Linked DNA regions of Homo sapiens: region 2 is linked to region 1. The links come from fine-mapping of genetic effects on gene expression. A gene starts in region 1. The other region holds a variant in brackets. All regions are shown on one strand. Distances are between the middles of the regions.

Region 1 (11,812 bases):
TTTCCTTTCCAACACAACAATCACTTATCATTGCCTTATCTCAGACTCTCATATCACCGGGCCTACTGCTTCTATGACATTTTTCCTGCATTCCAATCCATGGTCCACAATGCTGCCAGAATAAACATTTCAAAAGCCTACTGTCATTCTCCTTCTTAAAAACTCCTCAAGCGTATTCCTCCATTTATGGCAGTGTTTCCCAAACACCAAATACCATTTTCATTATTTTGTCATATTCCTACCACATACAACAGTGTATCCCTGTAATAATTTTCTTTGAATCTACTTTTATTTTTAGTTAGCTACATTTTAAACAGTATCACGAATCACAGTATGATTTTTCCCTAAAATATAAAAACATTTCATAGTGTTCATGCACCACCTAAAAAATAACAATCTAAGTTTAACAGCCTACTCTTCTATGATTTGGCATCTTTCTTTCCAGTACCACCTCCAGCCATACCAAACCACTTCAAGTTCCCCGAACCAGCCATGTTCTTGCAAATTACATTATACTATTGCACATGGTGTTTATTCTGTTTGCATGTTCTTTCCTTCTCATTTTGTCTACCTGAACTCTGCCCCTCGTAACTGCTCCTTTATGAAATCATCTCTGACTCTAAAGTTACATACTGCTTCTTCTGTTTGCCAACACCCTGGTCAGCCTCTATTACAGTCTTTGTTTACCTCCTTACCTCCCTTACTATATTGAAAGCCCCTCAAAGGCAGACACAAGTATCCAATTCTGCCCCTGGCACCCACAGGGAACAGTACTCAACACAAGGAACCATGTAAATAAGTGTTTGTTGGCTGGGCACAGTGGCTCACACCTATAATCTCAGCATTTTGGGAGGCCAAGGCAGGAGAATCACCTGAAGCATTTGGGACCAGCCTGGACAGCATAGCAAGACGCTATCCCTTAAAAAAATTTTTTTTTTGCCAGGCGCGGTGGCTAACGCCTATAATCCCTGCACTTTGGGAGGCCAAGGCGGGTGGATCACGAGGTCAGGAGATTGAGACCATCCTGGCAAACACAGTGAAACCCCATCTTTACCAAAAATACCAAAAAACTAGCCAGGCATGGTGGCATGCATCTGTAGTCCCAGCTACTTGGGAGGCTGAGGCAGGAGAATTGTTTGAACCCAGGAGGCAGAGGTTGCAGTGAGCCGAGATCGCGCCATTACACTCCAGCCTGGTGACAGAGTGAGACTCCATCTCAAAAATAAAAATAATAATTAATCAGCTGGGCACACTATTGCACACCTGTACTCCCAGCTACTTTTGAGGCTGAGGCAGAAGGATCAATTGAGCCCAGGAGTTTGAGGTTGCAGCAAGCTACAACTGCACCACTGCACTCCACCCTGGGCAGCAGACTGAGACCCTACCTCAAAGAAAAAAAAAAAAAGAAGAAGAAGAAACAAGTATTTGTCATAAAGCAGTAAACAGTTTGAGTCAATAAACCTTTACTGATTATCACATACAGGGCAGTGTTCTAAAATTGTGGAAAACACAAATAAGGAATGGCCAAACACAGTGGCTCACATCTGTAATCCCAACACTTTGGGAGGCCGAGGTGGGCGGATCACCTGAGGCCAGAAGTTCGAGACCAGCCTGGCCAACATGGTGAAACCCCATCTCTACCAAAAAATATATATATACAAAAATTAGCTGGGTGTGGTAGTGCGCACCTGTAATCCCAGCTGAGGCAGAACTGCTTGAACCCAGGAGGTGGAGACTGCAGTGAGCTGAGATGGTACCACTGTACTCCAGCCTGGGCAATAGAGTTAGATTCAGTCTCAAAAAAAAAAAAAAAAAAAAAACCTCAGGTAAACATGTCACCCTTAAGAACTGTCCAAGAGATTAGACAACCTCCAAGTTATAGAACCCCTGCTCCCCAAAAATATTAATACTTAAATATAAGTATTCAGTAAACCTGCCTTTATCATTAATTCTTCCATTTAGCCAGGTATGGAATCTGTATCTTTTATTAATCTCTCTGAAATCTTTCTTGTGGATAAAATCACATGAGCTCTTTATAAGAAAGGTTACACTGTGGTCCATTTACTTTCACATATGTCATTTTTTTTTTTTTTTGAGACAGGGTCTCGCTCTGTTGGCCAGGCTGGAGTGCAGTGGCATGATCTCGGCTCACTGCAACCTCCATCTCCCAGGCTCAAGCAATTCTCCTGCCTCAGCCTCCCGGCCCACATATGTCATTCTTATTCCTTCAAAACTGTTATGTATGCCAGGCATGGTGGCTCACGCCTGTAATCCCAGCACTTTGGGAGGCTGAGAAGGGTGGATCACCTGAGGTCAGGAGTTTGAGACCAGCCTGGCCAACATGGTGAAACCCCATCTCTACTAAAAATACAAAAATTAGCCAGGAGTGGTGGTGGGTGCCTGTAATCCCAGCTACTCAGGAGGCTGAGGCAGGAGAATCGCTTGAATCCGGGAGGCGGAGGTTGCAGTGAGCTGAGAACGTGCACCTGCACTCTAGCCTGGGCAACAGAGCAAGACTCCGTCTCAAAAAAACAAACTAACAGGCCAGGCTCACACCTATAATCCCAGCACTTTGGGAGGCCGAGGTGGGTGCATCATCTGAGGTGAGGAGTTCGAGACCAGCCTGAACAACATGGGGAAACCTGGTCTCTACTAAAAATACAAAATTAACTGGGCGTGGTGGCACATGCCTGTAATCACAGCTACTCAGGAAGGCTGAGGCAGGAGAATCGCTTGAACCCGGGAGGCAGAGGTTGCAGTGAGCCAAGCTCACGCCATTGCACTCCACCCTGAGCAACAAGAGCGAACAAACAAACAAAAACAGTTATGTAGATTTGATCCAGTACTAGTGATGTGACCATTTCCAACTTAGCGAAACAGAAATTGTGATTAAATCTGGAACATCGTATGCATTTAGTATTTTATCTTCTAATCAATTTAAAACACAAGTAAATTTCTGTCTTCTTTTCTACAGAACAAATCTTTTCCATCTTGCTCATTAAGTGGCCTCAATGATTACTTTTCTTAATAGAATGTTTTATTTTGCCTTTACAGCCTCAGAAAAAGTACTCCTGGCATACTTTCTTGGCCTAATTTTAGGTTGCACTTCATGCCAAGAAACAGAAAAAAATTAAATTTCTTTAAATACACCAGAGATGAGCAACACAACAAATTAATCTGATAAAAGCATTTCCAAGACAGAAAAAAAAGTCTCTACCTATAAAGAAAAATTCAGAATACTTTTGTCTTGGTTGCCCAAAACATATATTTTTAAGTTTATTAAGAAATGGATACAGGCCAAGTATAGTGGCTCATGCCTGTTATCCCAGCATTTTGGGAAGCCAAGGTGGGAGGATCGCTTGAGCCCAGGAGTTCAAGACTGGCCTGGGTAACATAGCAAGACCCTGTCTCTACCAAAAAAATAAATAAAAATTAGCTGGTCATGGGGGCATGTGCCTGTGGTCCCAGCTTCTCAGGAGGCTAAGGTGGGAGGACTGCCTGAGCCCAGGAGGTCGAGGCTGCAATGAGCCATGATTGTGCCACCACACTACAGCATGGGTGAGAGTGAGACCATGTCCCCGCTCCCCCACCAAAAAAAAGATTAAAAATTTTTTTAAGAAAAAAAAAGAAACAAATACAAGTCAAGTACAATGCAGCTATGTTTCAACAAGAAATAAAATGGTCTAAAAATTGTACTTCCTTAAGGTAAGAAGGAAATCTAATGTTTATCAAACTAAGAGGTACAAAGAAGTCCAACAGATTTTTCTTTCTTTTTTTTTTTTTTTTTTTTTTTGGTGAGACGGAGTCTCCCTCTGTCACCCAGGCTGGACTGCAGTGGCGCAATCTTGGCTCACTGCAACCTCCGCCTCCCTGGTTCAAGCGATTCTCCTGCCTCAGCCTCCCAAGTAGCTGGGATTCCAAGCACCTGCCACCACCTCCAGTTTATTTTTGTATTTTTAGTACAGACGGGGTTTCACCATGTTGGCCAGGCTGGTCTCGAGCTCCTGACCTCAAGTGATCCACCTGCCTCAGCCACCCAAAGTGCTGGGATTACAGGCGTGAGCCACTGCACCTGGCCAGATTATCTTTCAAATCATTTCAGTGCCCAATTTCCTTTTCTTTTTTTTTGAGACAGAGTCTTGCTCTGTCTCCCAGGCTGGAGTACAGTGGTGTGATCCCGGCTCACTGCAAGCAATTCTCCCGGGTTCAAGCCATTCTCCCTGCCTCAGCCTCCCAAGTAAGTAAACTGGGATTACAGGCACCTACCACCATGCTCGGCTAATTTCTGTGTTTTTAGTAGAGAGGGGGTTTCACCAAGTCGGTCAGTCTGGTCTCAAACTCCTGATCTCAAATGATCTGCCCACCTCAGCCTCCCCAAGTACTGAGATTACGCCACTGTGCCCTAGACACATTTTCATAAAAAGCAACATTTTATTCATCATAAACACAAAGTTCAAAAAAGCTTTATGCATGATAAATAAGAAGAAAAAATTCCATGTCAATTCACTGACATGCAATAGTCAACCTCACCTATGGGATTAATAATGCTACTAAGAGGTCTGGTTAGTTTTCCATGAATTGGGTCCCAATGCTAGTTGTATTCTTATTCCCTTAAAAAAACCACATAGCAGAAAGAAGCCACAAAAGGAATGTCTGAAGGACTCAGATGAGCACAAATGCTACATTACTACTAACGAAGGCTGTCCTTATTTGAAATTATTCTATTAAAAACGGGAAAATGCACAAGAATGACTCCCCTATCATATGCCACATAAAATTAACAGGTAAGTACAATTCAGTCACATTCACAACAGCACGTGTGGCCTCAAATATTATGCATACTTGTTGACTGATGTTAAGTATCAACTTACTGTACAAAGAAGAAATAAAACAAAACCCACAGTAATATATTTCCTTAAGAATACACTGAGTCGGGGCTGGGCACGGTGGCTTACGCCTGTAATCCCAGCACTTTGGGAGGCCGAGGCGGGCGGATCACGAGTTCAGGAGATCGAGACCATCCTGGCTAACACGGTGAAACCCCGTCTCTACTAAAAATACAAAAAATTAGCCAGGCGTGGTGGCGGGCACCTGTAGTCCCAGCTACTCGGGAGACTGAGGCAGGAGAATGGCGTGAACCCGGGAGGCGGAGGTTGCAGTGAGCCGAGATGGTGCCACCGCACTCCGGCCTGGGCGACAGAGCGAGACTCCGTCTCAAAAAAAAAGAATACACTGAGTCGGTTAAATACTAGCACGAGCTGATAAGCACTGCTAGAAACCTAAGCTCTGATTTCAGCAAATGCATAGAAACACTTTTCAAAGAAGCAGTATACCTAGGCCGGCGCGGTGGCTCACGCCTGTAATACCAGCACTTTGGTAGGCCGAAGCGGGCGGATCACTTGAGGTCAGGAGTTCAAGACCAGCCTGGCCAACATGGCGAAACCCCGTCTCTACTAAAAATACAAAACAGCCGGGCGTCGTGACGGGCGCCTGTAATTCCACCTAGTCGGGAGGCTGAGGCAGGAGAATCGCTTGAACCCGGGAAGTGGAGGTTGCAGTGAGCCAAGATCGCACCGCTGCACTCCAGCCTGGGTGACAGAGTGAGACTCTATCTCAGTTAAAAACAATAATAATAATAATAATAATAATAATTAAAAAGTTTTAAAAAAGAAAAGCAGTATACCAAAGTCATTCCTTTACCCATACATACATTTACTCTTACTTGGACTCAGGAGTAACAAGGAACTCACCTCCTTTAGAAAACGAAGAAAATGAAATACTGAGTTAAGAAGGGGTTAAGGAGAAAGTATTTGTATTTATTGAGAACCAACTACTTTATCCACTTCAGTAAGCTCAACAACATACTCAGAAACGGGATTCACCTCTGAATTAGCAAAACCGACGATCCTAAAAAGCAATTTGGAGGAGTGGCAATGAAGAGGGACGACCTGACGTTCGCTCCCGCCAGTACCAAACCACTCGGGCCCACCGCCTTCCCCTTCCTCAGAGACCTAAACACACTGAGGCCGCGTTCCGGTAGCCGGTGGCATCTCCTGTCAGACGCCGGCCACTCCGCGCTCCTGTCACCTCCGGTGGAGGCGACCCCATCCCGAGGGCACTGCCGCGGGGGCTCGGCTCCGACTGCGGGAGACCCAGGGATGGGGTGGGGAGCCGAGCCTTCTAAATAAAGCTGTTACAGCTGCGGGTCCTGGGGCAGCCCGAAGGCCAGAAGGGGCGACCCTGGGACAGAGGCCGCGACATCCCTCGGGATCCCCACTGAGGCAACCGGGACAGCATTCGACGACTCGGCTCGCGAGACCCTCGGCGTGACGCCGGGTAGGACCGGGTCGACTGGCAATGGGGGAGGCCCTCCACCGCGACTGGACTGGATACCCGGCGGGGGTCCTGGAGAAAGGAAGGGCCGGCCGGCGGGCGCCCCACAGCCGGAAGGGGCGAGCCCGCAAATAGGGCTCACCTTCAGGTCGTTCTCTGGCAGGTACTTGCACAGCCGCGCTATTTCCACATACTTGTCCAGGTCTAGCGGCGCCATTTTAAGAATAACAAGCCGCGGCAACAGCGGCGGCGGCGGCTGTAGCAGCGGCGGCGGCAGCGGCGGAGGCCGAAGCCGGAACTTTCCCTGCGTCACGTCCGGCCCGTGAGTGGCGCCTGCGCAGCGCCGTTAAAGCGCGACCCGTTTCTCCCCGCTACGTCGGTACGCCCGGCGCCCCCTCTGGCTGAACCCCGACTGCAGGCCCCAAGAGAGCCCGCTTCGGTCCACCCCGCGAAACCTGCTGGGACCCGTAGTCGTCTGCCGCGGGGGTGCTGGGATGTGTAGTTTTCTGTTGTGGACAGCCACCCCTCTCTTTTCCTCCCGTTCCTCCAGACTTTCACCTCCCGGCAGCCGGCGAGGCTTTTCCGAGGCAAAACAGCGGAGTAGGTGGTCCTAGCCACTCACTGGTTTGTTTTTCCAACCCTTTTAAGCACTCTCCAGAATATCTTCACTTAACAATTGGGTAAGCCTGGCCGTAGTAACCGTTTGCACCTTTCCAAGTCCCTGTGAAAACCTCGCCTAAGCCTGTGGCAGAGATGTCAGGCCCCAGTCTTCCAGCCTGAAAGGAAGGGAAACGAATATTATTAAAGCATTTCTGATGCTAAATGCGATACAAATGATATTTTTCCTTTTAATCTTCGTAACGATTGATAGGAAAGTGAGGCTAGGAAACTGCAGTTCACCCCAAATCTCACAGGGAACAAAATGGTGGGGTCAAGATTGAAAAATGGCTTAAGCTTAAGCATGCTTCCAGTGAGAATCCCACGAGGGCAGGGAGTTTTTTGCTGTAACTCCAGCACCGAGAACAGTACCTGGTACTAGCATACCTTCAGCGTTCGTTTATCCAACCACTCTTTGCTGAGCAACAAAGATGTGCCAGGTACAGCTCAAGGCGCTTGCAGTACTTCGTGAACAAAATAGACAAAGATCTCTATTCTATCTGTAGCTACAAAAAGTACCAAAATTAGCCTGGCGCGGTAGTGCGTGCTTGTGGTCCCAGCTACTCTGGAGGCTGAGGCAGGAGAACCGCTTGAGTTGGGAGGCGGAGGTTGCAGTGAGCTGAGATCGCGGCACTGCACTCCAGCTTGGGCGACAGAGCGAGATCCTCCTCAAAAATAAATTAGTAAAAGGAGCTGCTGTATGGGACTAGGGGTGGGGGTGCAATGCCTATAGCTAAGAGACCAGTTAAGAGACTGTTATGTAATCCAATAGTAGCAGGCGCTCAATAAATATTTGTTGCTCAAGAGACCCTGGAATTAATCCTCTTGCTCTCTAAAGTATATTTTGTGGACAATTGGCTAACCCTGAATGAGATATCTGGGTGAACTTCTTTGTATTATTCTTGTAACTCCTCTGAAAGTATGAAATTGTTTCAAAGTAAAATTAATTTTTAGAAGTTTGTTGCAGAATGAATGATGCCCACAAGCATTCATTTCTTCATTCATTAAACTAATAGTTACATAGTGCCTATTGGCCAGGCCGCGGTGGCTAATGCCTGTAATCTCAGCACTTTGGGAGGCCAAGGCAGGCAGATCACCTGACGTCAGGAGTTCAAGACCAGCCTGGCCAACATGCCGAAACCCCATCTCTACTAAAAATACAAAATACTGGGGAGGCTGAGGCAGGAGGATCACTTGAATTGCTTGAGGCAGAGGTTGCAGTGAGCTGAGATGGCGCCACTGTACTCCAGCCTGGGCCACAGAGTGAAACTCCATCTCAAAGAGAAAAGAAACCAGAGGTTACACAGTGCTTATGATGTGAATAAAACAGATATGATCCCTGCCCTAATCAGGCTTACAATCTGCTGGGAAGAGACAAACAGTATTTATTTATTTATTTACATTTACTGGTTTATTATTAATATAAAGGATATTACAAAGGATACAAATGAAGAGATGCATAGGGTGAGGTAATTAAAATTTTTGTTTTTGTTGAGGCCGGGTGCAGTGGCTCAAACTTGTAATCCCAGTAGTGAAGCCAAGGTGAGCAGATATCTTGAGGCTAGGAATTCAAGACCATCCTGGCCAACATGGTGAAACCTGATCTCTACTAAAAATACAAAAATTAGCTGGGCATTGTAGCACATGCCTGTAATCCCAGCTACTCCGGAGTCTGAGGCATGAAAATTGCTTTGAGGTGGGGGTTACAGGGAGCTGAGGTCGTGCCACTGCACTCCAGCCTGGCCAACAGAAAAAAAAAAAAAATTGTTGAGGTGAGGTCTTGCTGAGGCTGGTTTTAAATTCCTGGCCTCAAGCTATTCCGCTGCTTTGGCCTCCCAAAGTGCTGGGATTATACGTGTAAGCCACCATACCTGGCAGTGAGCAAATATTTAATTGCAAATTGTGATTAGTACTCAAAAGGGAAAATAGGAGGTACTATAAGCAAGAAAAATGGAGTAGACGAGGTCTACCTTTGGCTGGGCACAGTGGCTCACGCCTGTAATCCCAGCATTTTGGGAGACCGAGGCGGGCAGGTCTTTTTGAGGTCAGGAGTTCCTGACCAGCTGAGATCCCACCACTGCACTCTAGCCTGGGAGAGAAAGTGAGACCCTGTCTAAAAAAAAAAAAAAAACAAAAAACTACATTTTCTTACCTGTACTTGTGTCCTTTGGGGGAAAAAAAAGGGCCCAGCATGGTGGCACACGCCTGTAATCCCAGCACTTTGGGAGGCCGAGGCGGACGGATCATGAGGTCAGGAGTTTGAGACCAGCCTGGTCAATATAGTGAAACCCTGTCTCTACTAAAAATACAAAAAATTAGCCGGGTATGGTGGTGTGTGCCTGTAATCTCAGCTACTTGGGAGGCTGAGGCAGGAGAATTGCGTGAACCTGGGAGATGGAGGTTGCGGTTGCAGTGAGCTGAGATAGCGTCATTGCACTCCAGCCCGGGTGACAATGCAAGGCTCCGTCTTAAAAAAAAGAAAAAGAAAAAAAGAAAGAAAGAAAAAGAAAAACTTAGCCTGGTGTGGTGGCACGTGCCTGTGATCCCAGCTACTCAGGAGACTGAAGCAGGAGAATCACTTGAACCTGGGAGGCAGAGGTTGCAGTGAGCCGAGATCGCACCACTGCACTCCAGCCTGGACAACAGAGCGAGACTCCGTCTCAAAAAAAAGAGGCCTACTTTAGGTTGATAACACAGAGGAGGTAAAGTACAGGATGTAGCTTCTAGCACCATGTGGGCAGAGTTCAAATACAGGCTCTACCACTTATTGTGTGATTTTGGTTTGGAGAAGTTATTTATCCTTTCTGTACTCCAGTTTTCTCAGCTCCAATATGGAGATAATAATAATGCTTACCTCCTCTGGAGATTGTAAGAATACTACTTACCTCATAGGCTTGTACAAAGGTTTAACAGAGTTGGTATATGAAAATGGCTTAAAACAATGTCTGGGCCGGGCACAGTGGCTCATACTTGTGATTCCAACACTTTGAGAGGCCAAGGCAGGAGGATCACTTGAGCCAAGGAGTTCAAGACCAGACTGGGCAACATAGTGAGACCTCATCTCTACCAAAAAAAAAAAAAAATTAAAATTAGCCAGGTTTGGTGCTGGCACATACCTGTAGACCCAGCTACTCTAAAGACTGATGTGGGAGGATCACTTGAGCCCAGGAGGCCAAGGCTGCAGTGAGCTGTGATTGTGTCACTGTACTACATCAGGGTGACAGTGAGACTCTGTCTCAAAACAAAAAACAAAGACAAAAAAACATTGTCTAGCACAGAGTGAGTGCAATATGAGTGTTAACTCTGAGTATTAGGTGGGCAGGAAAGGCATTTCTGAAGGTGTAACATGTAAGACTTCAGAAAAAAAAATGTAGGAGGCTGGGCATGGTGGCTCACGCCTGTAATCACAGCACTTTGGGAGGCCCAGGCGGGCAGATCACTTGAGGTCAGGAGTTCAAGACAGGCCTGGTCAACATGGTGAAACCCCGTCTCTACTAAAAATACAAAAATTAGCCAGGCATGGTGGTGCATGCCTGTAATCCCACCTACTGGGAAGGCTGAGGCAGGAGAATCGCTTGAACCCGGGAGGCAGAGGTTGCATTGAGCCGACATTGCGCCACTGCACTCCAGACTGGGTGACAAAGCGAGACTCCATCAAAAAGAAAGAAAGAGAGAAAGAGAGAGAGGGAGGGGAGGGGAGGAAAAAAAGGCAGGACAGGTGCAATGACTCATGCCTGTAATCCCAGCACTTTGGGAGGCTGAGGTGGGCAGATTGCTTGGGCCCAGGAGTTCGAGACCAGCCTGGGAAACATGGCAAAACCCCATCTCTACAAAAAATATAAAAATTAGCCGGGCATGCTGGCATGTGCCTGTAGTCCCAGCTACTCAAGAGGCTGAGGCGGGAGGATTGCTTGAGCCCCAGAGGCGGAGGTTGCAGTGAGCCAAAGTTGTGCCACTGCACTCCAGCCTAGGCAACAGAGTGAGACCCTGTCTCAAAAAAAAAAAAGGAAAAAAAGGTAAAGGGATAATCTGCTCAGAATTTCTTGGAGAAAAAAATTCAAATGGAAGAAGATGCTGTTCTTGTTTAGATATTTTTCTTTTTTTTTTTTTTTAGAAACTGATGTTTATGGCCAGGCACGGTGGCCATAAACACACACACCTGTAATCCCAACACTTTGGGAGGCCAAGGCGGGCGGATGACGAGGTCAGGAGATCGAGACCAACCTGGCCAATGTGACGAAACACCGTCTATACTAAAAATACAAAAATTAGCCTGCCTGTAATCCCAGCTACTCAGGAGGCTGAGGCAGGAGAATTGCTTGAAACAGGGAGTCAGAGGTTTCAGTGAGCCGAGATTGCGCCACTGCCCTCCAGCCTGGCGAAAGAGCGAGACTGTCTCAAACAAAAAAAAAAAAAAAGAAACTGATGCCTATTTTCCATCAACCTTATTTCCAAGTTGCTTAAGAGTCCCTGCAAGAACAATTTAAAACCATTCAGTGGTCTGAACAGTGGGAGCTGCAGACCAGTCTTCCGTGGCAGGCTGAGTGCTCCAGTCTTCAGTAGGGAACTGCTGAATAGGCACAGAGGATACCTGCACCCTTCAGACCAGTCTGCAACCTCAGGCTGAGTAACAGTGAACTCAGGAGCTGGAGCAGTCCATTCACCCTGAAATTCCTCCTTTGTCACAGCCTTTTCAGTAGCAGCTTGCTCTTCTTTTTCAATCTCTTCAGGATCTCTGTAGAAGTAGAGATTAGGCAGGCCGGGCGCAGTATCTCACGCCTGTAATCCCAGCACTTTGGGAGGCCAAGGCGGGCAGATCATG
Region 2 (11,812 bases), 38 kb before region 1:
ATTCACACTTCCTCTTTATCTTCCCCAATTACTCCATCCTACATCAAACATTTCCTTGTCCAGATGTGTTGTACTTACAAAATCTACACTATGTTAGCAATTATACATTGCCTTGGATTATTCTTCCCAACTACAATGAATTTGAACAAATGGCCTATGAGTATGAGCCCTTAATAAAAGGCAGCTTTGGACCAGATACTGGGTGCTTTGTGTGTGCTATTTTTAATAGTGAGATTAACCCTGCCTGATATTCTCTTATTTTAGACACAGAAACTTAAGATTCAGAAAATTCAATCTGTTCAGGGTCACACAACTACAATAACCAATATTGCTTAAAATAGAGCGCTAAAGAAATACTCTGGTGTGCCCTCTAGGGATTCAAGTTCCAGCTCTCTTGTGCAACGTTAGACAAGTCACCTATCCTCTCTAAGCCTATTTCCTCATCTAGGGGGAGAAAAGTTCTAGAGAAGGATGAACAAGATTTATTAATTTTTTTGAAGTTTGGGCTGGGCACAGTAGCTTATGCTTGTAATCCCAGTGCTTTGGAAGGCCGAGATAGGAGGATCTCTTCAGCCGGGAGTTCAAGACTAGCCCGGGCAACATAGGGAGACCCCATCTCTACCAAGAAAAAAAAAAAATAAAAGGTAATATAGTCATAGACCCATACAGCAAGGGCATCACAAAATAGAGAACATAACAATTTAGCACATATGCTGTATACAGGTTAGTTGCTATTACTGCATGACAGAGCTGGGGTTTTCACCCAGATCTGATCCCAAAGCCTGTGCTATTCCATAATGCCTCCATGCAGTCTTTTATAACCCACCATTTATATACAAAAGCACAGTGCTGCTGAGCATAGTGGGTGCCTAGGGATTGAGTGGAATATACTTATGTAGTATTTTTGTTGACAACACAAATCTATAAATGTCATGCATTTTTGAATTAAGAAAACATTTGAATGATCTAAGCCAGCATAAGCCTACTCTCATGAGGGCACAAATTCACCAATAAATTGATACGGAAATAGAAAACAGGAGGGGAATGCAGAACCAACCTTCCCCAAGCATCTAGTGTGTCTGGCATCATGCTAGGGGACTTTCCAAATGTTTCTTTTTGGTTTACTACCGTGTATTTCGTCAGCATCACTACACACTGTAAATATACAATTTAAAGAGTTGTGATGATCTCATGAAGCATAGTTCTGGGCACTGGATCGAGGTTGTAACAATAAACATTGCCTTTAAAGAGTTGGAACACTTAGCTCAGAGTCAAATGCAAAACAAAAAAAAAAAGGTTTCACTTTTGTTCACCAGTCAAGCAACCAAGTGGAGGAATAAGCATTTTTTAATTTCTTATATAAAATGCTAACTTCTTGTCAGGACATACTACAGACTATGCATTGAATTTTTTGACAAACTTCCTGTAATCTTTTTATTAATTTACACTGAGGGAATATAGCACCTTTCATCCGAAGAACTGAAGGTGCTTTACAAACATTAGCATTTAAAAAACAATTACATTTAAAAATCTGGATTCTTGATGTCAAATCTCTTCGACTCCAGATACACAATTTCCTGGAAGCTGATGGAAAGTGATTCTATTTCTGACAATGAAAGAGGCTCAGAAAGAGTCCTAATTTGCTTTCACAGTACAGGCATTTTCCAAAACCTGGTTCTGGGCTTACAAAGCACACACACACAAATCTTAATGCAATGAACAATATTTCAAACCTTATTTCCCAAAGCAAAACCTAGGGCTTAAGACGTCAAAATCTTCCAACAGTTCTAGACATCCAGACAGAATAGGAGCTGATGCAGATTGCATATGAGATGTACTGTTGATCCAGGTGTTTTAGGATCACACTCAAATGAATATAAAGTAGTGAAACTTTTTGGGGAAACACATTAACTTATAAAAAGCTAGCCAAGAGCATATCGGCCAAAGGAGGAAAGGGAGTAAATGGCAATTCAAAGTAGACAGTTCTCACTAGAGCCTAGGGCACTTTATTAGAAACCAAGTATATCATAGGCAAATAAAAATAGTTTTTACCCCCATTGATACAACATAAGGGATTTTACATTCAGCCTAGATATAGGGAGTAACAAATCCTCCTGCCCATAAATCTATGACTTGCAAGTATCTTCCACCACATGATAACTCTATATAGTACATATAGTACATAGCCCTTATTTATTGGAGGGATCCAAAATATTCCTTGTAGGCTCACAAAGTCCAATACATTAGCTCTCTCTTCCCTTTACACGTCTAATAGTAAAAACTATTTTTTCCATGCAAAAAGCCATTATTCAGTTGAAGAGAAATCAGGCAAAACAGAGATGGCAGATAAGGAATGGAGAGAATATTATTGGCACGTGCCCAACTAGTGACAAACAAATGCAGTACACAATGACTTAAAAATAAAAGTCACATTATAGGGATAACAAAAACAACTACATCAATCTAAGCTAAGGAGTGTCAAACAGGGAGGGCTGGGAGTTACCGGTTCTATTAGTACAACTTAAGTGGAAAGCAAGCACTTAAATACAATTTATGGTAACAGGAAAAAAAAAAATACTGCAGAGAGCTGTTCAAAGACCACACCAAGTTGTCTGCATCATTAATTTCCAGTGTTTCACAATTAGTAAAATACATAGCTACATATCCCTGTGAGATAAAAATACCTTTCCACCTGAATTACACTGGGATCAGGGCAGTAACACGAAGCTACTGACCCAACATTAGTTCAAGTGTGTGCAGCAAATGTCTTAGCCACCTCTTTCATATAGCTATATAATTAAAAACTATGTAAGGAGCTGGGTGGTTTGAGGGAAAAAAATTAAATCAAAACAGTATTGTGCTCAATTAATAAAAGAAAACCCTGATGAAAAATTATATGCCAAGAAGCTTAGACTATAAAGATTTTTATTGCATTTTTAGGTAACCTGGAAGTTCTTATCCTGAAGGGGAAAAGTGGGTTTTCAAAACTACCTGAACAGATGCTAAAGTGCTTTATTAATTGGCTGGCTTCACAAGTATTTCCTGGAATAACAAAAATTAATCATAGTAAAGGGATACCAACTATTTCACAAAATGTACATTCCAACATCATTTATGACTACAGTCATAAGAGATACTGGAATACTTGTCCTTATTAAGTGGACAGTTGCATATTCAGAACTGATCATCACAACCCTTTGGATATTCAAATTACTTACACAAAGCTGAAATATGGTATCACAGACCTTTGCAAAAAAGAAGAACTTGTTTCTTTTTCTACACTTTAAATAATCTGCTTCAGATTACAGTTCACAAATACAAGAGTCCTAACTTTTCAACCTTTCCAGTTGCAGTTTAAAAATGAACACTTTCTAAAAGTTAAGGTCAAGTGTTACAGCAAGAGAAGAATGATTCCTATTGAAAAGCACATAGATTTTAGTTAATAATACTCATGATAGATTGTAAACTGGATTGATCACATTCTACTCAACTGGTATCAAATTAACACATCAGCATTACAAGTATTAAATGTTTTTCTATTACTATAGAGGATATAAACCAAAACATTAATATGGCAGTTATGTTCTTTAGGCACAGTTTAGTGATTTTTTTCAAAAATAAATACTATTGAATTTCAATTGAAGTTTTAAACTCAATAACCAAAGGGTCAAGAACTCTGATTAGGAAAAAAGAAAAGATAACTTTACGCTAACAATGTAAGCTGTTTAAAATTTCTAACACTTAACCTATCTGAGTTTTATTTAAGATTACTTTATTAAAAAATACAAGGAATCTGAAAAAAGATCAATACAATTATCTTAAAGTACAAAGTCATAAGCTGTAGCAGTTTTTAACTAAAATTTAAAAACACAACAAGGAGGGCAGCCCTTTAGACCAATTTATTTTATATCCATTTAAAATATCATCCAACAAAGGACAATGAAGTTTACATCTGGGACAGGTATACATAACTTGAGGCATTTGGAGTCCATCGTGCCCACTGAATAACAACTTTGCTGCTGAAATTTCTTAAAACTTACCAAACTAAAACAAAAGGCTGAATGATACAAAAGGAGGAGTATTTAGGTGTAATCTGTCAATTGGCTTTTAAAAAAAGGAAACACATCCTGTTTCCCAGACCAGTAAATAAGCAAGAGCTACATGCAGCAGTGTGAGTATTAAGACATTTCTCAAGTCTTCTCAAATGAGTCCAGGGTGGGGATGGGATGGGGGAAAATTGATAGAAAAACTTTGCTATAGACACCACAACAAACAATAAATTTAGATAATTTAAAATTTAAAAAAAAAAAGGCAAGAGGCAGCATTTCAGCAGCAAAGTGCTCAATAAAAAGTATATTGTAGAGGGTAATACAAGAAAATTGGGGTAAGAAGAGGGCAGAAAAATGGGTCAGCAGGATGGGCGAAGGCCTCAAAGGAAATATGGCGTTGTCGTTCTGGGAGGAATAACACGTTCTGAATCTGGAACTGCCCGGAATAACTTTGGTTCTCTTGTATTTACATCTTTGAAGACCATGATCGAAGCAATATTTCCACAACGATAGCAGTAATTAGGAGCAGACCATACTGTCACCAGCTTCTCATCAAACATAAATTTATAGCCTTCGTGCACTAGTTGATGTGCTCTGCAGATGAGTTTTAAGTTGTTGATATGAACAAACTGCAATTTAGAAAGGCACTGTAAGTACTTAGCACTTAAAAAACAATCGGCCTACATAATCATTTAAATAAAATACCAAATCCTATTACTACTAAAGGCATCAAGATTATAGAAC[G/A]CACTCTATAATTATCTCCAACAATTTAATAAGTTTAGGCAAACAGCAATTTTGGCCTGAGTCAAGTGCACAACTATGGAAACTGTACAGCTACATAAACAGTTAGAAATTTCTGGAAGAAAAAGCATTCAATAGGTACTATGAAACAAAATTTTGTGTTTTCTGATTTAATAATAAAGATATTGCTATCAGTATCTACCATTTACTGAAGGTTTAGTATATGTAGATGTTGCAATAATTCTGAAAGAGATTATTCTTTTGCAACTTAAGGAAACAAAAGCTCAGACTAGATAAATAACTTATCTAAATTAAGATACACTGATGCAGGATCAGAATCTAGTTTTTTGACTTCATTATGATGCTGGAGCACTTCCCAATATAAGGGGTGTGTGTGTGTGTGTGTGTGTGTTTTAATTGAAAACAGTTGAAAGTTCAAAGTGTGTGTGTGTGTTTTAACTGAAAACAGTTGAAAGTTCAAAGTACTGCCTATCTTGAAGATGGCGGAGTAGCATCGCAAAGAGATTAGTATTGAGTCTCTGGGCCGACTTTGGTTGCAGTCTCTGCAGCAGCAGTGATCACTTAGTGAAGAGTGCTTAGGGTAGTTGGCCAGGATCCTGAATATCAAAATCTTCAGCGGCAGCTCCCACCAGGGCTTATCTCAGAAAACTGCCGATCGCCTGGGCCTGGAGCTCGGCAAGGCAGTGATTGAGAAATTCAGCAACTAGGAGACCTGTGTGGAAATTGGCAAAAGTGTACGTGGAAAGGATGTCTACATCATTCAGAGTGGTTGTGGCAAAATCAATGACAATTTAATGGTGCCTTTGATCATGACTAATACCTGCAAGACTGCTTCAGCGAGCCAGCTTACTGCAGTCATCCCATGCTTCCCTTATGCCCAGCAGGATAATAAAGAGTCAGGTGACAATCTCAGCCAAGCTTGTTGCAAACATGCTATCTGTGGCAGGCGCAGATCATATTATCACCATGGACCTACATGCTTCTCAAATTCAGGGCTTTTTTGATAACCCAGTGGACTATCTGTATGCAGAGCCAGGTGTCCTGAAGTGGATAAGGGAGAATATCTCTGAGCAGAAGAACTGCACTATTGTTTCATCTGATGCTGGTGGAGCTAAGAGAGTGACCTCCATTGCAGACAGGCTGAATGTGGACTTTGCCTTGATTCACAAAGAAGGCCAATGAAGTCGACCGCATGGTGCTTGTGGGAGATGTGAAGGATCTGGTGGCCATCCTTGCGGATGACATGGTTGACACTTGTGGCACAATCTGCCATGCAGCTGACAAACTTCTCTCAGCTGGAGTCACCAAAGTTTATGCTATCTTGACTCACAGAATCTTCTCTGGTCCAGCTATTTCTCACATCAACAACGCATGCTTTAAAGCAGTAGTAGTCACCAATAACATACCCCAGGAGGACAAGATGAAGCACCATTCCAAAATACAGGTGATCAACATCTCTATGAGCCTTGCAGAAGCCATCAGGAAAATTCACAATGAAGAATCCGTTTCTTACCTATTCAGTCATGTCCCTTTATAATACAGTAACTTCTGAGGCTTTTTAAGAATAAAATCCACCCCACCCCTTGTTTTCCCTTGGTATTTGATGACGAATTCAGCAGAAGACCCAGCTTGCTCCAGTGTAGCTTTCTATATCCCACATCAGGTATATCTGAGCTTATCCGAAATGAAGAAAGAAGGATTGAGATTAACTGCTGGGACTTCCTATCTGCATTGTCTCATTCTGGCTTCCTTGATGATTCTGTGAGCCTTGCAGCTTTAACTATAGCTCAGCTGTTACAAGATTTCAGACTTTTGAGGATGTTGTGTGGGGGTGTTTGACTGTGACTGGAGAAGCTCAGACTACTCTGCATGTGAATGCTTCAGGGTTTTCTTTGTTGAGAACAACCAGCAGCAAAGCCAACCCATGTGTGAGCAGTTCTCCCCAAGGTCTATGCTAAATTATGGCAAGAGCCCTGGGCAACCCCAAACCTAGTCCCGGTGGCTGAGCACCCTGTAAGGCAGGAGTAGGCAGTTGGGCTTGAGCAGCCATGGGGTAGGGGGTGGGGGGTGGTTGAGGGGGGAGGCAGCACAGCGCAGCAAATGTTTCTTGGGAGGAAGAAGCCTGATCCATCATCATCTGCTTGACTATGTAGCTTGGATTCTCTTTTGTACCTACTCCTTTGATTTGGCTTTACCTTCATCCATCTTGATCCTTTCCTGGCCAAAGATCCTCTTGGGCCCAAATGAACACTGTACCGTAGTCTTCTGGAAAGCAAATGTGCTTCCTGCTATGTAATCGCTAACATTCACATTACATGATTTGCTGTAGCTTGATCTTCCTTAGCCTACTACCACTGTGGCAGTAGGTTTTAGGTGGTATCATAGTGCCTTTTGATTAATTTAAGTATTTAATTTTCATCTTCTTTCTTTGGATCTATTTGGCTTTTCAAATGAACAGAGATTTCTGTTAAAAAGAAAAAAAAGATTTGACGTAGGCTGGGCGCGGTGGCTCACGCCTGTAATCCCAGCACCTTGGGAGACCAAGGTGGGCAGATGACCTGAGGTCAGGAGTTCAAGACCAGCCTCACCAACATGGTGAAACCCCGTCTCTACTAAAAATACAAAATTAGCCAGGCGTGGTGGTGTACACCTGTAATCCCAGCTACTCGGGAGGCTGAGACAGGAGAATCGCTTGAATCCAGGAGGCAGAGGTTGCAGTGAGCCGAGATTGCACCATTGTACTCCAGCCTGGGCAACATGAGCGAAACTCTTGTCTCAAAAAAAAAAAGATTCATGTTATTGTCTCTTGTAGAGGAAACTAATAAAGTGTCTGTATCTGTGTGATTTGAGGTCTTTGAGAAAAAAAAAAAAAAGTATTGCCTATCTTGGTCTTGCCATTTTGTTACTTAACTACAGTACTTGAAAGGAAAGGGGCTGGCCGGGTGCGGTGGCTCACACCTATAATCCCAGCACTTTGGGAGGCTGAGGCGGGTGGATCACCTGAGGTCAGGAGTTCAAGACCAGCCTAGCCAACACGGTGAAATCCCATCTCTACTAAGAATACAAAAATTAGCCAGGCATGGTGGCGCACACCTGTGGTCCCAGCTACTCAGGAGGCTGAGGCAGGAGAATGGCTTGAACCTGGGAGGCAGAGGTTGTTGCAGTGAGCCAAGATCACGCCACTGCACTCCAGCCTAGGCGACAGAGCAAGACTCCATCTCAAAAACAAAAAAAAAAGGAAAGAACATTTACTTTATACATTATTACCAAATGGATGCTGGAGTAGGTGCTTTCACTGTGTCATCTTATTTAACCATTAAAGAAAGACATACGTTAATAACTAAACTAGAAATTTAATATCCACAGCCACCATATTTTGAGTAAGCTAGACTACAAGTTTGTTATCTAGGGCCACCATAGTTCTCTATGCAGCCCATTAGCAATCCACAAATTACATTTCCAAAAATGTTGGCTTTACCTCATTTGTGACCTTTGCTCCAAAAAGCCAACCTGCTCCTCGGGGACTGATAGCCCAGGTATCCACATCTTCAGGATCTGACCAAACCAGATCACAAAATGCTCCTTTATGAGGAATTTCCTGATTCCGTTCGATGGTTCGAATTTGATCCAGTGTTTTGATATCAGGAGATAAACCACCATGGACACACAAAATCTGCTCATCTATTAACTAGCAAAAAAGGATAACAAAGAGTTGAACATATAACCTCAGGCATATCTAAACTCATCAGTGAATACTAAAGATATCAATATAATTGAGATGACAACTAGATAAAAATATGCAATGTGTTATTGGCAGGAACGTACATGAGACTTTAAAAATAGAAACTTACAGCTGCTACTGTGAGCATGTCAAAAACTTTGGTACAGTATCTCCAGGCATTAGCATTTCCATATTTGGTTTGGCACTCATCTGTGAAAGAAACAGAAGGGTTTTAATTAATGAATCTGCTAATAAAAATAAACAATATATCCAATACTAGAGCAGCCTTCAGTACAACAGAAATTCAGCTTAAACTAGGATAGCAAGATATGACACATATTTAGTCCTGCTAGGACCTCCACATAGAGCCAAAAGAACGCTAGTGACTAACTACATACAGTTGTATGTCCCTTAACCATGGGGATACATTCTAAAAAATGCATTGTTAGGTGATTTCATCGTTGTGTGAACATCATCGGATGTCCTTACATAAACCTAGATGGTCTAGCCTACTACACACCTAGGCAATATGATATAGCCTATTGCTCATAGGCTATAAATTTGTGCAGCATGTAACTGTACTAAATATCATAAGGAAATAGTAACACAATGGTAAGTATTTGTGCAATAGGAATTTTTCAGCTCCGTTTTATCTATGGGACCACTGTCATATATACAGTCCATCATCGACTGAAATGTCATTATGTGGCACATGACTGTATTTCCTAAGGATGTAGTACTGCTCTTCATTCCTGGAATGGACCTAAGAAGCAGCTGAAATTATTAGCCAAAATGCTATCATTAGAAGAGTTAAATACTAATTTCACACAACCTGAAGCAAATGTTTTAACAGTTATGTTAATATTAGGCAATTCTGGTAAGCAGATAAATTTATTTAAGGAGACAATTCTAGCAGGATAAACAGATCAAACAAATTAGAGGATCCTTAGTTATAGGAGCATGAGCAATTCCTAACTCTTCTCAGGGCTAAGTTGTCTCTTCTGAGATTTTCTGCAAATCGTGCGACTAAACACTTGAGCTTCAGTGGATCAAAACTGAGGACAGATTGCCAATCAGGTTCTTACAAATTCTCAGTTGAACACTCTTTCTGCTGCCTACGTAGTTTTTTGTTTTTGAGACAAGGTCTCACTCTATTGCCCAAGTTGGAATACAGTGGCACAATCAGCAGTGGCGCGATCACAGCTCACTGCAACCTCAACCACTTGGGTTCAAGCGATCCCACCACCTCAGCCTTCTGAACAGCTGGAACTACAGGCAAGTGCCACCACACCTGGCTAATTTTATTTCTGGTAGAGATGGGGATCTCCCTATGTTGTCCAGGCTGGTCTTGAACTCCTGAGCTCAAGCAATCCTCCTACCTCAGCCTCCCACAGTGCTGAGAATACAGATGTGAGCCACTGTACCCTGACTGTCTACATAGTTAATAGGGTACACACTTCTTTTGTTAACACCATGGAAGCTCTGTACTTTGGCTTCTTCCATAATTTTAGAAAAAAAAAAACCTGACATATCACTATTGCCTTAAGTGAAGCTGAAAATGATATAGGAAAGAAGTCTGCAGGTTATGACCAATCCCCAAGATTTTCTCAATTATATATCTACGTGAAGCAAGATTGTTATGTAAACTTGCCATAAGAGAGCCCTAACAATGAGCTCAGGTTGCAGGCAGGGATCTTGAACTTGGCTCAATAGTAACTGCCCAGTATGTGTTTATCAGTGTGAACTGAAGTCCCAGTGTAAAGTCATATAGGGATATTTTATTCCTTGAAAATCAATATAAGTCCTATAATAACTAAAATTATCTTATTCAAAACATATGTCATATGGCTGGACGCAGTGCCTCATGCCTGTAATCCCAGCACTTTGGGAGGCCGAGGCGGGCGGATCACAAGGTCAGGAGATTGAGACCATCCTGGCTAACACGGTGAAACCCTGTCTCTACTAAAAAATACAAAAAAATTAGCCGGGCATGGTGGCGGGCGCCTGTAGTCCCAGCTACTTGGGAGGCGGAGGCAGGAGAATGGCGTGAACCCAGTAGGCAGAGCTTGCAGTGAGCGAAGATCGCACCACTGCACTCCAGCCTGGGTGACAGAGCGAGACTCCGTCTCAAAAAAAAAAAAAAAAAAAAGTCATATATTAGCCATATATAACAATATGTATTTTATATATTATACATGTAGCATTAGTTACATATATATAGTAGGTGTGTGTGTTTTTATAACATTAGTTTTAGTACTGTTTTCACTGAGCTAATATCATAGTATGTTATCCAAAATATTGATTATTTTGCAAAAGAATCCAAAAGTTGTATTTCAATTGGTGTTTATTTTGTGAATGAAAATAAAAAGTCACCTGTAGAAAGGAGATAAATATTACCTAACTTTACACGTATTAAAAAAATTATATAAAAACAATAAATTCTCAAAATTTCTCTAATTGATAATGGCAGACAAACTGAAGAGTAAGAGAGTTCAGATTATCTTTGCTTTGTTTCGTTTTGAGACAGCCTCACTGTCATCCAGGCTGGAGTGCAATGGTGCAATCTCGGCTCACTGCAACCTCCACCTCCCGGGTTCAAGGGATTCTCCTGCCTCAGCCTCCCGAATAGCTGGGACTACAGGCAAGTGCCACCATGCCCAGCTAATTTTTGTATTTTAAGTAGAGACGGGGTTTCACCATGTTGGCCAAGATGGTCTCGATCTCCTGACCTTGTGATCTGCCTGCCTCAGCCTCCCAAAGTACTGGGATTACAGGCATGAGCCACCACACCTGGCCCAGCCTATCTTTATAATGAAAGAAGATAATTCAAAATATAAAATTTAAATCTAAAGGGTTCTGCAATTAATGTTTCCAAATCTCTCAATATCTGTCTTAATTGTGCTCAAGGAAAATCCAAATTCATAATCTTGACAGTTCTATTTCCCTGAAGGGGCTTCCTAATAAGCTCGCTCTCTCTCTCTCTCTCTCTCTCTCTCTCTCTTTCAACCAAATAAAAGTTTTAAAGAATTAGCTAGTTTGCTTTTTTTCCTTTCTTGAGACAGAGTCTGGCTCAGTTGCCCAGGCTGGAGTGGAATGGAGCGATCTTGGCTCACTGCAACCTCCACCTCCTGGGTTCAATCAATTCTCCCTGCCTCAGTCTCCTGAGTAGCTGGGATTACAGGCCCCCACCACCATGCCCGGCTAAATTTTTTTTATTATTAAACTTTAAGTTCTAGGGTACATGTGCACAACGTGTCGGTCTTTTACATATGTATACATG

What was found. PIP is the estimated chance that this variant, and not a neighbour inherited with it, causes the effect.
Region 2: its variant is the best candidate, but not a certain one, in a credible set for the expression of PPP6C in whole blood (INTERVAL, PIP 0.62).

The regions. Positions count from the first base shown.
Region 1 is chr9:125,183,169-125,194,980 of GRCh38, forward strand. It overlaps PPP6C (protein phosphatase 6 catalytic subunit), which reads right to left and starts at 6,635. Exons shown (of 7, transcript NM_002721.5): 1 at 6,476-6,635. The coding sequence starts at 6,550. It also overlaps the pseudogene RPSAP76. RefSeq lists enhancers at 5,957-6,743, 6,744-7,530, 6,833-6,912.
Region 2 is chr9:125,145,244-125,157,055 of GRCh38, forward strand. It overlaps PPP6C (protein phosphatase 6 catalytic subunit), which reads right to left. Exons shown (of 7, transcript NM_002721.5): 5 at 8,663-8,742; 6 at 8,290-8,499; 7 at 1,330-4,678. The coding sequence ends at 4,430. It also overlaps the pseudogene PRPS1P2. Among named protein-coding and RNA genes, the nearest start is that of SCAI, 7.6 kb to the left of the region's middle. The variant G/A (reference allele first, on the strand shown) is at 4,794.